3 linked regions of the Homo sapiens genome follow. The protein of the gene in region 3 purifies or fractionates together with the protein of the main gene of each other region. This does not show direct contact. Each region holds a gene or a part of one and is shown on either strand. Other genes may lie near its edges. The genes, in order: SNX18, STK39 and RELL1.

Region 1 (3,753 bases), on a different chromosome or scaffold from region 3:
TTGAACTGAAGTTTGCCTCCCTTGATTGTCTTTCTGTTCCCTGGGACCGCCTTCAGACATTTGGAGACAGCAGTCTCGCTTCCTTCCTCTCTGCTTCTCTCCTTCCCCTTCCAAATGCGTGACTGGTCTTCTGACTCCTATGGGGGAAGGGGCTTGCTGGGAGAATGATCAAACGTTTTCAGTCTTGTTGCTGCCGCTGAAAGGGAGTACCCTGGACATCAGTACTAATTTTAGTAGACAGTAGTAACTTTCTTGGCAATTTGCGATTTGTAAATGCAGTCTAATATTGAATTCGTTTTTTGTGCAATCATATTGCTGTTGGCCTGTATTAAACCTGTATTTACATTACCTATGCCTTTTTTTAAAACATAAATTGTTATGAATCTTTGACTTTTTTGACTGGTGTTGGTGGAACTGCCTTTGTGAGCCTTTAATGGAGGGATTTAGCATTTAAATTCCATTGTGTTACATCATTCTGGACCTATGCTGGCTGCCCTTTTACACATTTCTGTGAGTTTGTGCAAATTACTGGTGAACAGTTGAAAGGATGGAACCAAGTACAGACACTTGGACATGTGTGCTGGGCCGCTGGTGTCTGTCTACTTTAGGTTGGCATCAGTTCATTCACTGTCAATCACACCATGCACTCAGGCTTTGTCAAATGGCCTGCTTTTGAAATTATATATTAGAAAAGGTATGGTGTGTGTTCTAATATCTATTTTGAGTTTACAGCAATGGTCTACTTAGTCTATTAAACCATCTGGTTATGGCCAGGGTCACGCCTGTAATCCCAGCATTTTGGGAGGTCGAGGCAGGAGGATTGCCTTAAGGCCAGGAGTTCGAGACCAGCCTGGGCAACATAGGGAGACTCCCTTGTCTACAAAAAATAAAGAAGTTAGCGTGGCATGGTGGCTCATACCTATAGTCCTAGCTACTAGGGAGGCTGAGGCTGGAGGATTGCTTGAGGCTAGGAGTTAATTTGAGGTTGCAGTGAGGCATAATTGAACCATTGCCCTCCAGCTTGGGTGACAGAGCAAGACCCTGTGTCCAAAACAAAAAATATATAGCTTATTTACTTCTTTATTTATTTTGTAGAGACAGGTGTCTTGCTATGTTGCCCAGGCTTGTCTCTAACTCTTGGGCTCAAGCAATCCTTCCAGCTCAGCCTCCCGAAGTGCTGGGATTACAAGCGTGAACCACCATGCCCGGCCTAGTTTATCTTTTTTAAATTATAGAACTGGATTTGTCTCTAGTCACTTGGGATTTGAAAAACTTCCTTCATTAAAACCAGTATCATTTTATGTGGCTTAACAGATTCAAGAGCACTAAACATAATCTCTAGGAACTTTGGAAAGAACAGCAGTTGATATTCAGTATAGTTTGTTTCTGCTGTAACCTTGGTGTGTAATGTACAGTGAACCTGTGTCCCTGGATGACACATCTTTAGAAAATACTACCATTTAAAGTGACAGTGTGCGATACATAAGGCTAAAAGCATTTGCCTATAACCAGTGTTTATCAAGGATGCTAGTGTAGGCCATTTTTAGGAGTATAGATGAGACAAACATCATAAGCCAGGATAAAAGCTTTCTGAGCGTATTCAGGACTTGTGGTTGTAAAGAGCATCTCAATTCCGTCACCTCCCCAACCCCAACTGTTACACACTTGAAATATGGCTAATGTGACTAAGGAACTGAATATTGGTCAACAGAAATGATAGAACTTTTCCATCAGTGCTGAAAGTTCTATTGGACAGTGCTGTGTTAAACTGCTGGCTGCAGTTTAACTATCAACCCCATCGTAAGTTTCTCCAGCAAATTATTATATTTTAATATAGTTTCCTGATAGCTTTATTTTTACTTGGTCATCTCATTGCACCTCCTCCTTCCCATATAGGCTTAATTAATAAAAACTGGGAAGGGGGAAGCAAGTCCTGCTAGATTCTTCTTTGCTGAATTTCCCAAGCACTCAACCTGAGTGACATTTCAGTAGCGTGAGCATCTCTTGCAGTGTGCCTTTATGTCCCATTCAGAAAACACATTGGTTACGGGATGGATGTCTGAGGCCATCCTGGTGAGAACCCAGCTGCAAAATGAGGGTGGAAAACTCAAATACTCTTAAATGTTGGTGGGCTGAAATTTTCCTGACTATACTAAATACTGAACCCATTCTTTAAACTAATAATGGTTTTAGTGTACATACTTTCTGCAGAAGTGAAGAAAGCGATATACTTCCTTCAGCCAAAAGAGAATTCTGGAATTTTGATTTTTTTTCATCAACGGATGGAGTCTAACTATTTAGGTTAATGGAGTTGAGCGAAGAAAGACGGTAGTTTGCTGTAGTCTGCGGTACATTAGATGGGAATTCAGAATCTATTGGAATTTTATTTGTGTTTTGCTTTGACCTAATAGGAGTCCTTTAAGTTCTTTGTTCATAGGTAGCTCATCAATCCCTGACTAGGCAGTGTGCAGATGTTTGTCACTGACATGTAACCCCTGTGGTCTTGATTTTTTTTTTCTTAAGTGATAGCATTTTATCTTCTCCCTCCTTATCATGCCTGTCTGCAGTATACCTTTATAGTGTTGATGTTGAGGAGTTTGGGTAGTACTGAGGAATATATTTTATTATTAGTTTCTTGGCATATTCAGTTTTGTTTCCAAAGATATGATCAATCTCTAATATTTAATAAAGCTAAATCTAGGTGGCAGCAAGTTGAGGTTTAAAAGATTTAGGTTTACCTCTTGCGACTATTGCTAAAAGGAAGACTGTAAAAGATTATGAGAAATACTGGTTTCATCCTTGTTTAGGAATTTGGACTAAATAAAAATGGCTAGAGGGAGTTCCTTTAAGTGAAATGTCTTTCTTCTAGAGAAAAGGTGTAAAATAGTGTTAAATTGATTTGTCGATTTGGGCTGTGTGAAGCAGGGAGGCAGGACTAGATAAGTAAATAGGCAGTCCTGTTTTCTGTACTCTTAAATATACAGACTCTACTTCATCGCTCTCTAAATGTTCCAGATGGAGCCTTTTTTCAATAAAAGCCCCAGGACCTCAGGAATGGTATACCAGTAGTGGGCCTGTCAGTCTTGCTGGGTAGAATTTCACCATTGTGCTTCCTTTTACCACTAGTAGAGTTGGCCTGATGTCCTTCAGACATTAATTAAAGATAGCTGGAGTCCCAGCAGGGCACACAAGGTAAGGCTGGGCCACACGGAGACCCTTCCCTGTCTGCTCCCCATTCTCCTGTAGCTAAAAATAGCCCTGAAAGGGTGGTGCCAGGAATACAGAGAAAAGCTCTAAGAAGTTGGGGCTGTTTGCAAATTCATCCTTATTTTTGAAACCTCTGGGCTAGAAATTGAGGCTGTTCATTCTTTTTGTTTTCACTCCATCTTTAGTTGAACCCATTTCTCCTCTCCCCTGCATTTACCCCCAGCTGTTCTCTAAAAAGACCTCATGTCTCTAAAAAGAGAACAGGTCTGGGGCTTACCCTTTGCCCCAGTTTGTGTTTTCTTAGTGAAAATAAGGTGACCGTTGGTGCTTTCGAAATACACGACTCAGTTCCTTGGTTAAAATATAAATGTGACTGCCCAAGGACAGTCTTGGGCACGAAACTGGGTGTGGGCACCGCTCATACCACACCGTCAGGGGTTTCTCAGACTTCTTTTTTGAGCCACATAGCCTTCAGAGTCATGCCGACCACAGTGGGACCGAAGGGAGGCAGAGGACCTGCACTCCCACCCTCCTCCCAGTAACTCA
Region 2 (3,753 bases), on a different chromosome or scaffold from region 3:
TCAAAATATGGGCTTTATTTAATGCAAATATTCCCAAGGCAAACAAACAATTGAATGGGGGCCCCATGACCAAAAACACTAAATCCAAGTTTGCAAGAGCACTTTCAGTGTGAATTTAACGAGAAGGATTCTGGGTCAGGGACCAGAAGGCTGTTCATGGCCGTTCCATGGCTGGTTCCTTTTCTGGTTACAGTATTTCTCACAAAAATTCCTAAGAGCAACCCTCCAAAGAGGGTGCAAAAAGTCTGAACTGACAAAGAAAGGAGTATGAGGCCAGGAGAAAAGGCAGAAGTGAACTGCTGAGAGAAAAAAAACACACTCTTTGAGGACCTAAATCACAGGTGGGAGGGGGAAAGAAGTATGTTGTTTCTAGACCTCTGCTTATAACCGGAAGATTCCTTCCTGTGACACTACCTGATCTTTATTTTCTTTCCTTCTTTTTCTTTTTTTATTTGAGACAGAGTCTGCCTCTGTCATATAAGCTGGAGTGCAGTGGAGCAATCACAGCTCACTGCAGCCTCAACTTCCCAGGCTCAAGCGATCCTCCCACCTCAGCCTCCCAAGTAGCTGGGACTACAAGTACGTGCCACCACGCCTGGCTAATTTTTGTATTTTTTGTAGAGATGGGGTCTTACCACGTTGCCCATGCCGGTCTTGAACTTCTGGGCTTAAGTGATCTGCCCACCTTTGGCCTCCCAAAGTGCTGGGCTTATAGGCATAAGCCACTGAGCCTGGCTGATCTTTATTTCATTTACCTGATATATTTGAGGCACTAACACTTACAATAAACAAACAGATACCTAGTACTTTGTTACCATATACAGATTAGTATCCTTGGCACTGTGAATTCATGTTTCAACACATATTAATTAGTATTCCAAACCCCTGGGTCAGTTTAAAAGCCAAAATTACCTGGGGGTTTGACATTTCTGAAGAGTTAACAAACGGCTTACCTCAGGACCTGAATTTGGCTCTAGGCTCTTTATAATTAACTAAGAGGATTGAGCTTCCCCATCAGATACAGCTGCCTGCCCCTCATTAAGAGATTCAATGTAATGAAATAGAAGAAAACAAATGCATATTTTTCCCCAGAGGAAAAAAAAACCTCTGTTTATTTGTTGACTCTTAGATTTTTGTGTCATTTAAAAAATGATAATTCCAAAAACATTTTCTTTTTATTGTATAAGGATATACCATACCAGGCATGCATGCATTTCTGTCCTGCTAAAAGAAAAATGAACAAGAGTCCACGTCTGCCCACGTCCTTACCTGTGGAAACCTGTTTAAAATCTGTTCTTACCTAAAGCCCAGAGAGGCTAAATTGGACTCAAAAAGACAAAGAAATTTTCTGTCAGATCCTCCTCAGAAAACAGAAGATTCTCAGCTTCATAAAGCAAAAGGTAAAATCTTCAGCTTGAGCAGAGCATTTGGGACTATTCAGGGTCTCAAGTCATCAGAATTTCTCATTTCCTCAGAGTTGGTGGAACCCCACAAAAAGAGAATGCCTTAAGATCATCTTGTTGGCAAAGCGCAAGTTCCTCTGCTGAATAAAGGGGCAGTCCCAGCACTCAATACTGCAGTCCAGCTCTGGCAGGCTTCCTTTTTCTTTTCCTTTTTCTTTTTTTCTTTTTAATTAAAAACTGAAGTAGGCACTCAAGGAAACAATGACTAATAAGACTGAGGAAGACTGAAAACAGAACAGAACTAAGCTCCCCAGGGCTCCCCACCGAGACCTACACAAGCAGACCCAAGCCAATTACAATGCCTTCGTCATCTCATTTTTGGGCTTCTGCTTGATCCAAGAGAGTTTCCTTTTTAAAAAAGGAAAACATTAAAACACCTCCCTCGACATCTGCAGATTAAAATAGGCTCTATCATATAAATTCTGCTATGCTAGTTTTGGGTTGTCCAGGCACAGCAAAATGTTCTCCTCTGATCCTAAACCATACTTCATGTCTCAGAAAGATACCCAGAGAATCAAGCCCTCGAAAGAGAACACACCAGAGATGTGGGTATGCTGGGTGTTCCCAAGGAAATCACTTGGGCTTTCTAAGCTTCAGTGCCCATGTCTGCAAAACGAAGGTGTAAATACTTGCAGCACAGCATACAAATTTTTAAGTCAACAGATGTTAAAGTCACAAATTCCAGCACCAACATTTACTATGTGTGTGACCTTGGGCAAGTTGCTAAACTCCCTTGAAATTTGGTGTAATTTCTGAAAAACAGGGATGGTGACACAGGCCATTCAGGGACACTGTGAAGATTAAATGGGATAAGGTCAGTAAATTGCCTTGGACAGGATCTAGCCACAGAGTAAGTGTTCAAAAAAGGCAACGGTTATCATTATCATTCCCTCTCTGATAGTGATGTTAGAAGATTAAAAGAAATAAAATACAGGATGTGAAAGCACCTTGTAAATTAAATTGTCAATGGCTTGCATCACTGCAGGGATCTGAAGCTAGAGAGAGGAAGTGACTTTCCCTTCCCAAATGCAACAATAGGATGACAATAGTGCCATTTCTGATCAACACTGCAAGTGAATATGTAGCACACATTTCTCCCCATGTCAACTGAAACCACATTTAGTGAGCACCTACTGGGCGCCAAGTTCAATGAATTCAAAGTGCATTAGACAATCTTCACAAAGTCCACAACCTAAATATGCACTGTCCAATACTGGAGCCATACAAGGTGATTTAAATGTAAGTTAATTAAAATTGAATACTCAGTCCCTCAGTCACACTAGCCACATGTCAAGTGCTTAAGAGTCACATGGGATTAGTAAAAAGTAGATAGCAGCACCTCAGAACATTTCCATCATCACAGAACATTCTGATAAATGGCACTGAGATAATTCAGCAAACTGCAATGTGTTAAGGACCTGAACAATGTTAAAAAGAAAGGACTCAAGGAGAAAGGACTGGCTAACTTTTTTGAAGAGTAAGCGGTGACTGTGGAGAGGATGTGACCTTTTAGGCCTGAGCACATGGAAAACAAAGGAGAGATGCAAGGCTGAGAAAGAGGACAGGTCAGGGGCAAAGGCATGAGAGCACATAATACATTCCGGGGGCTGCCTCTCAGCCTAGAAGGTCGGGCATTTCATACCTGGAGAAGAGGACATACACATTCTCGGAAGTTAAGCAAAATTATGAAAAGCTTTGAAGGTCAATGTGAAGCAATCTGGACGTTATCCTCTAGGCAATGAGAAACCAAACAAACTTTCAAACACAGGAGAGAAAGGATTCAATCTAAAGTCTTCTCCAATATGCTGGTTCCAACAAAAGGAGAGAAAACAAGCAAATAAATAACAACAACAAAATCCACTTACCTCCACTTAGTAATTTCATGACCAGCCAAAGTTCATCTTTGACCACAAAAGAGGTGTAATAGGTCACTACGTTGGGATGGCTGCACTGACTCATGGCTTGAATTTCTTTCTATAAAAAGAGCAAAACATGACATAGTACCATGGGGTGAAAATTGGCAAGCAAAACACAAGTGAATCACAGTTGAGTACCTGGGTAACTTTCCTACTCGAAAGCCTACCTGAGGGGCTGCCTAAGCCATTACTTCAAAGAAGGTATATAAGGACCAATTCTCTCACCCACATTATCAACTCAGATTAGAAAGTTCTCTACAGGAGACCACAGAGCCCTGTGGACCAGCTACCAGACACAGGAACTTCAGATCACTGTTATCACCCAGATGACCCCCCAACTCTGCCAGCAGAGAGCCCTGCCACATAGGACTAAG
Region 3 (3,753 bases):
CATTCTGAGTCCATAAAAGGCCCCAGACCCAGCCACACAGGAGGAACTTCAAGTAGAACCATTCCCCCGAGCCCCACATTGCCTCTCTGCTGAAAGCCATTTTCATAGCTCAATAAAATTCTTCTCCGCCCTCCTCACCCTTCAGTGTGTCGTGTATCCTCATTCTTCTTGGGTGCGCTACAAGAGCTTGGGAACTGCTGAAAGTGGGTACAAGCTATACCACAGGGGAGCTGAAGCACGCCAGCGTGGCCAAGCAGGGCGTCGAGGCTGGGGCAGAGCGTCGCCAGCCAGGAGGTCCCCAGTTTACAAAGTGACCGAGAAGAAAACTCCTGCATCATAATGATTATAATGGGGACAATATGCCTGGTATGAAATGAGCACGGTTCATCACAGCAGCAAACAAACAATATCAAACAGAAGCTTTATTTGCAAACCAGAGGCCATAGAACAAAGACTACCTCTCTTTCGCATGGAAATATCCATTGTCTTTGAACATGAAAGGAAATAATTGGTTTCTTAGGTTTGTAAGAGGTTGCATTCATTACTTTATCAGACAACCTCCAGAATTTGAAATAGCCAGTGTTTTCTGATTTCTCCCTGAAGAATCAATATAATAAATACATCCCTAAATATATGCAATATACCGTCTAAGTTAGGGTTTAACCTCATGCCTTATTTTCAGGAAAAACCAGAAACATTTATTTAATCCCTTTTATGGTCCTAAAACAATGTTTTCTTTATTAATTCCTTTATATAACACATATTCCACGCAACAAGAATAGGTGAAGTAGGCAGCATGCTGAGATCAAGGAGCTTTACTCAGAATCACTGTCTGTTTCAATCTGGGGGTGAAAATAAATTCTTTTTTAGGGGGACAATGGGAAAGAGGGATGAAAGAGGGGCTCAGAATTGGAGTCAAACACCTCCCTCTGAATCAGGTGATTGAGAAGGTGTCTTCATCGTGAATTTGACATGTGGCAACCCCTAACAAACACTAAATATCTACAGAGCTCTGTGACTTACAAACATGTGTCATTCACTTAATTTCATAATTATCGTGCCATGAAAAAACTGAAGATATTAATCTACATTAGTGAAGCATATAAATTACAGGGAGAGGCAATATAGCACTCAGATTAAAAGCTCAGACCTGGCAGAAATAACAGACATGTTATTGGCCACATACTAGACATGTCACCTTAGGCGAGTAATTTTAACTGTTCTGTACTCTGTTTCCTCTCTGTTAAAAGGATCAAAATGAGTGTGACTAATCTGTGATAATTTTACAAGATGGCCCTGGGAAATAAAAATCTAATCTCAGACCCCAATTTACTATGCCAAAAGGAAAAAATTAAACTGAAAGCTGAGTCATTCAAGAAATTGCGTTTCCTTTTGTTCTTAGGCAGATAGCTACTGATAAAAGGTGAAGTATCTGCACAGGTAGCTACTCCATGCTCACCTTATCTTAGGTAAAGTGCTGACTGACTGACATAATTGACTATTACCCTGCCCGCTCCTTTTCCCTTGCAACAGGTAGATTCAGTAATGTGAACATCTGCTCCCTCTTTCCCCTTGTATTGAAACCTCAATACAAGTATTGAAACCTCAATACAAGTATTGAAACCTCAATATTCAATACAAGTATTGAAACCTCAATATTCAATACAAGTATTGAAACCTCAATATTCAATACAAGTATTGAATACTCAATACAAGTATTGAGTATTGAAACCCTCAAAATCTTCTTAGGAAAATGGCATGAACCACAGATTGTTCCTGTGGATTTGAGATCCTTTTCTCTGGACATGTCCTTAACCTTTGCAAAATAAACTTCTAAATTGACTGAGACCCGTCTCAGATACTTTTTGGTTTCCAGCTTCAAAATTATTTGATACTGCTTCTACTGAGAGGTGAGGTCTGTATCTCGTCCCCTTACATTTACACTCTACTCTCCCTGACCCACAGAATGTGTTGGGAATGATGCATTATCACTTTCCAGCCTCAGGCAATAAGAAACTGACAACTTCCACTTCCTGTTTCTTGGGGCACTTGCTCTTGGAACCCAGCCACCATGCTGTGAGGAAGCCTAAGCTTCCCTGTGGAGAGAAAATAGCAGGCATCAACTTATCAGCCAGTAATAGCCATAATAAAAGTAGATCCTATAGTCCCAACTGATGCTCCATGGGGCATCAGAGCTGTCTCTGATGAACCCTGCCCAAATTGTATAACAAATCCTTAAACAAAAGAAATGATTGTTGTTTTCACCCACTAAGCTTTGGGGTTATTTGTCATACAGCAATAGTAACTGGAAGCCTGCTGCATGGTGTCACTGTGAAGATTAAACAATATTAATATGTAAAGCATTCAGAAGAGTGTCTACAAAAAGGTGGGCACTGTATTTTAGTCATAATCATAAAAGACCTGCATTATTCAGTAAGATAGCCACTAGCCACATGTAGCTATTTAAATTCAAATTTAAGCCAAATGAATTTAAATAAAATTAAAAATTCAGTTCCTCAGTTGCATTAGCCACATCTCAAGTGCCCAGTGGCCATGTGTGGCTAACTGCTACCATACTGGACGGCCCAGATAATGAACATTTCCACCATCCCAGAAAGTTTTTTTGGACAGCCCTGTTGTGCATTATAAAGAATAGCTAACAAGAAAGATGCAGAGTGGAGAATATATTGTGATCTACCTTAACAATTCAATGAAAAATAGCTTTTAAATAACAAAGTAACTGTTCATACATAATGTCTAAAACATTTATAAACTTCAGTAGGTTTAGCTTTCCTTCAATTTACACTAATAATTTGCTGAGAAACACTGTATCCCTTCTTCTCCTTCACCCCTAGCTGAATCATGTCTGAATCACGAACAAGTTACTTAGTCCAAATAGCAAAGGTTGTTGCATTATTTATAAAAGTCAAAAAATAGCAACACCTGCATATTTGCAATGAGATAGTAAAAACATATCTAAATCATGGTTTCATTTGATGAAATAATATGCACTATTTAAAGATCTATGAAATTTTTTGTGAAGATACAGGAAAACACTATGATCCAATATTGAATTTCAAAAGCTGGATTCAAAACCTTACATGCAATATGATCCAACTAGTTTTTTTAAAAAATAAAAACGCATGAAGGTATAAAGCCAAAACCAAAATGCTAAGTGATTCTCGGTACTAAAATAATGAAATAAATTTAATTTTATCTTTATACTTTTCTATAACTTTCTAAAATTAGTATGTGGTACTTTTGTACCAAGATGGTAGACACTTTAAAAAGTATGTAGAGCAGAGGCTGTTAGTCATTTGAGAGTCACAAACCCCTTTGTGAGGTCTGATGGATGCTAGGATTCCTATTTCAAAATTTTGCCTCCCGGTTCTGTGACTTCTTGAACCCAAATTAATGTAAGGGCAAGTGATGTAATAAAAATGACGTCCAAGTTTCTGCTTGAGCAACATAGTGGACATTGGACCCATTCATTGTGATGGGAAATATATATATATATATATAAAAAGCAAGTTTGCTTGGTGTTATGGTTTGAATTTTGTCACCCCCTCCTAAATTTATATGTTGAGCTCCTAACCCCCAATACCTCAGAATGTATTTGGAGATAGGATCTTTACATAGGTCATCTAGTTAAAATGAAGTCATCAGGGTGGACCCCAGTCCCATATGATTGGTGTCCTTCTGAAAAGGGGAAATGTGAAGAAAAAGGCAGAGATCTGGATGATGCTTCTTCTA

The links.
Region 1: the proteins of RELL1 (region 3) and SNX18 purify together in Homo sapiens (affinity purification with mass spectrometry; 2 studies listed by BioGRID and IntAct, with this or other methods). This does not show direct contact.
Region 2: the proteins of RELL1 (region 3) and STK39 purify together in Homo sapiens (affinity purification with mass spectrometry; 2 studies listed by BioGRID and IntAct, with this or other methods). This does not show direct contact.

The regions. Positions count from the first base shown.
Region 1 is NC_000005.10:54,520,657-54,524,409, forward strand, and holds part of SNX18 (sorting nexin-18), read left to right. Parts: exon of another isoform or gene 1-390; intron 391-3,753.
Region 2 is NC_000002.12:168,163,971-168,167,723, forward strand, and holds part of STK39 (STE20/SPS1-related proline-alanine-rich protein kinase), read right to left. Parts: intron 3,438-3,753; coding exon 3,329-3,437; intron 1-3,328. UniProt on the Homo sapiens protein: Effector serine/threonine-protein kinase component of the WNK-SPAK/OSR1 kinase cascade, which is involved in various processes, such as ion transport, response to hypertonic stress and blood pressure.
Region 3 is NC_000004.12:37,651,740-37,655,492, forward strand, and holds part of RELL1 (RELT-like protein 1 precursor), read right to left. Parts: intron 1-3,753. UniProt on the Homo sapiens protein: Induces activation of MAPK14/p38 cascade, when overexpressed. Induces apoptosis, when overexpressed.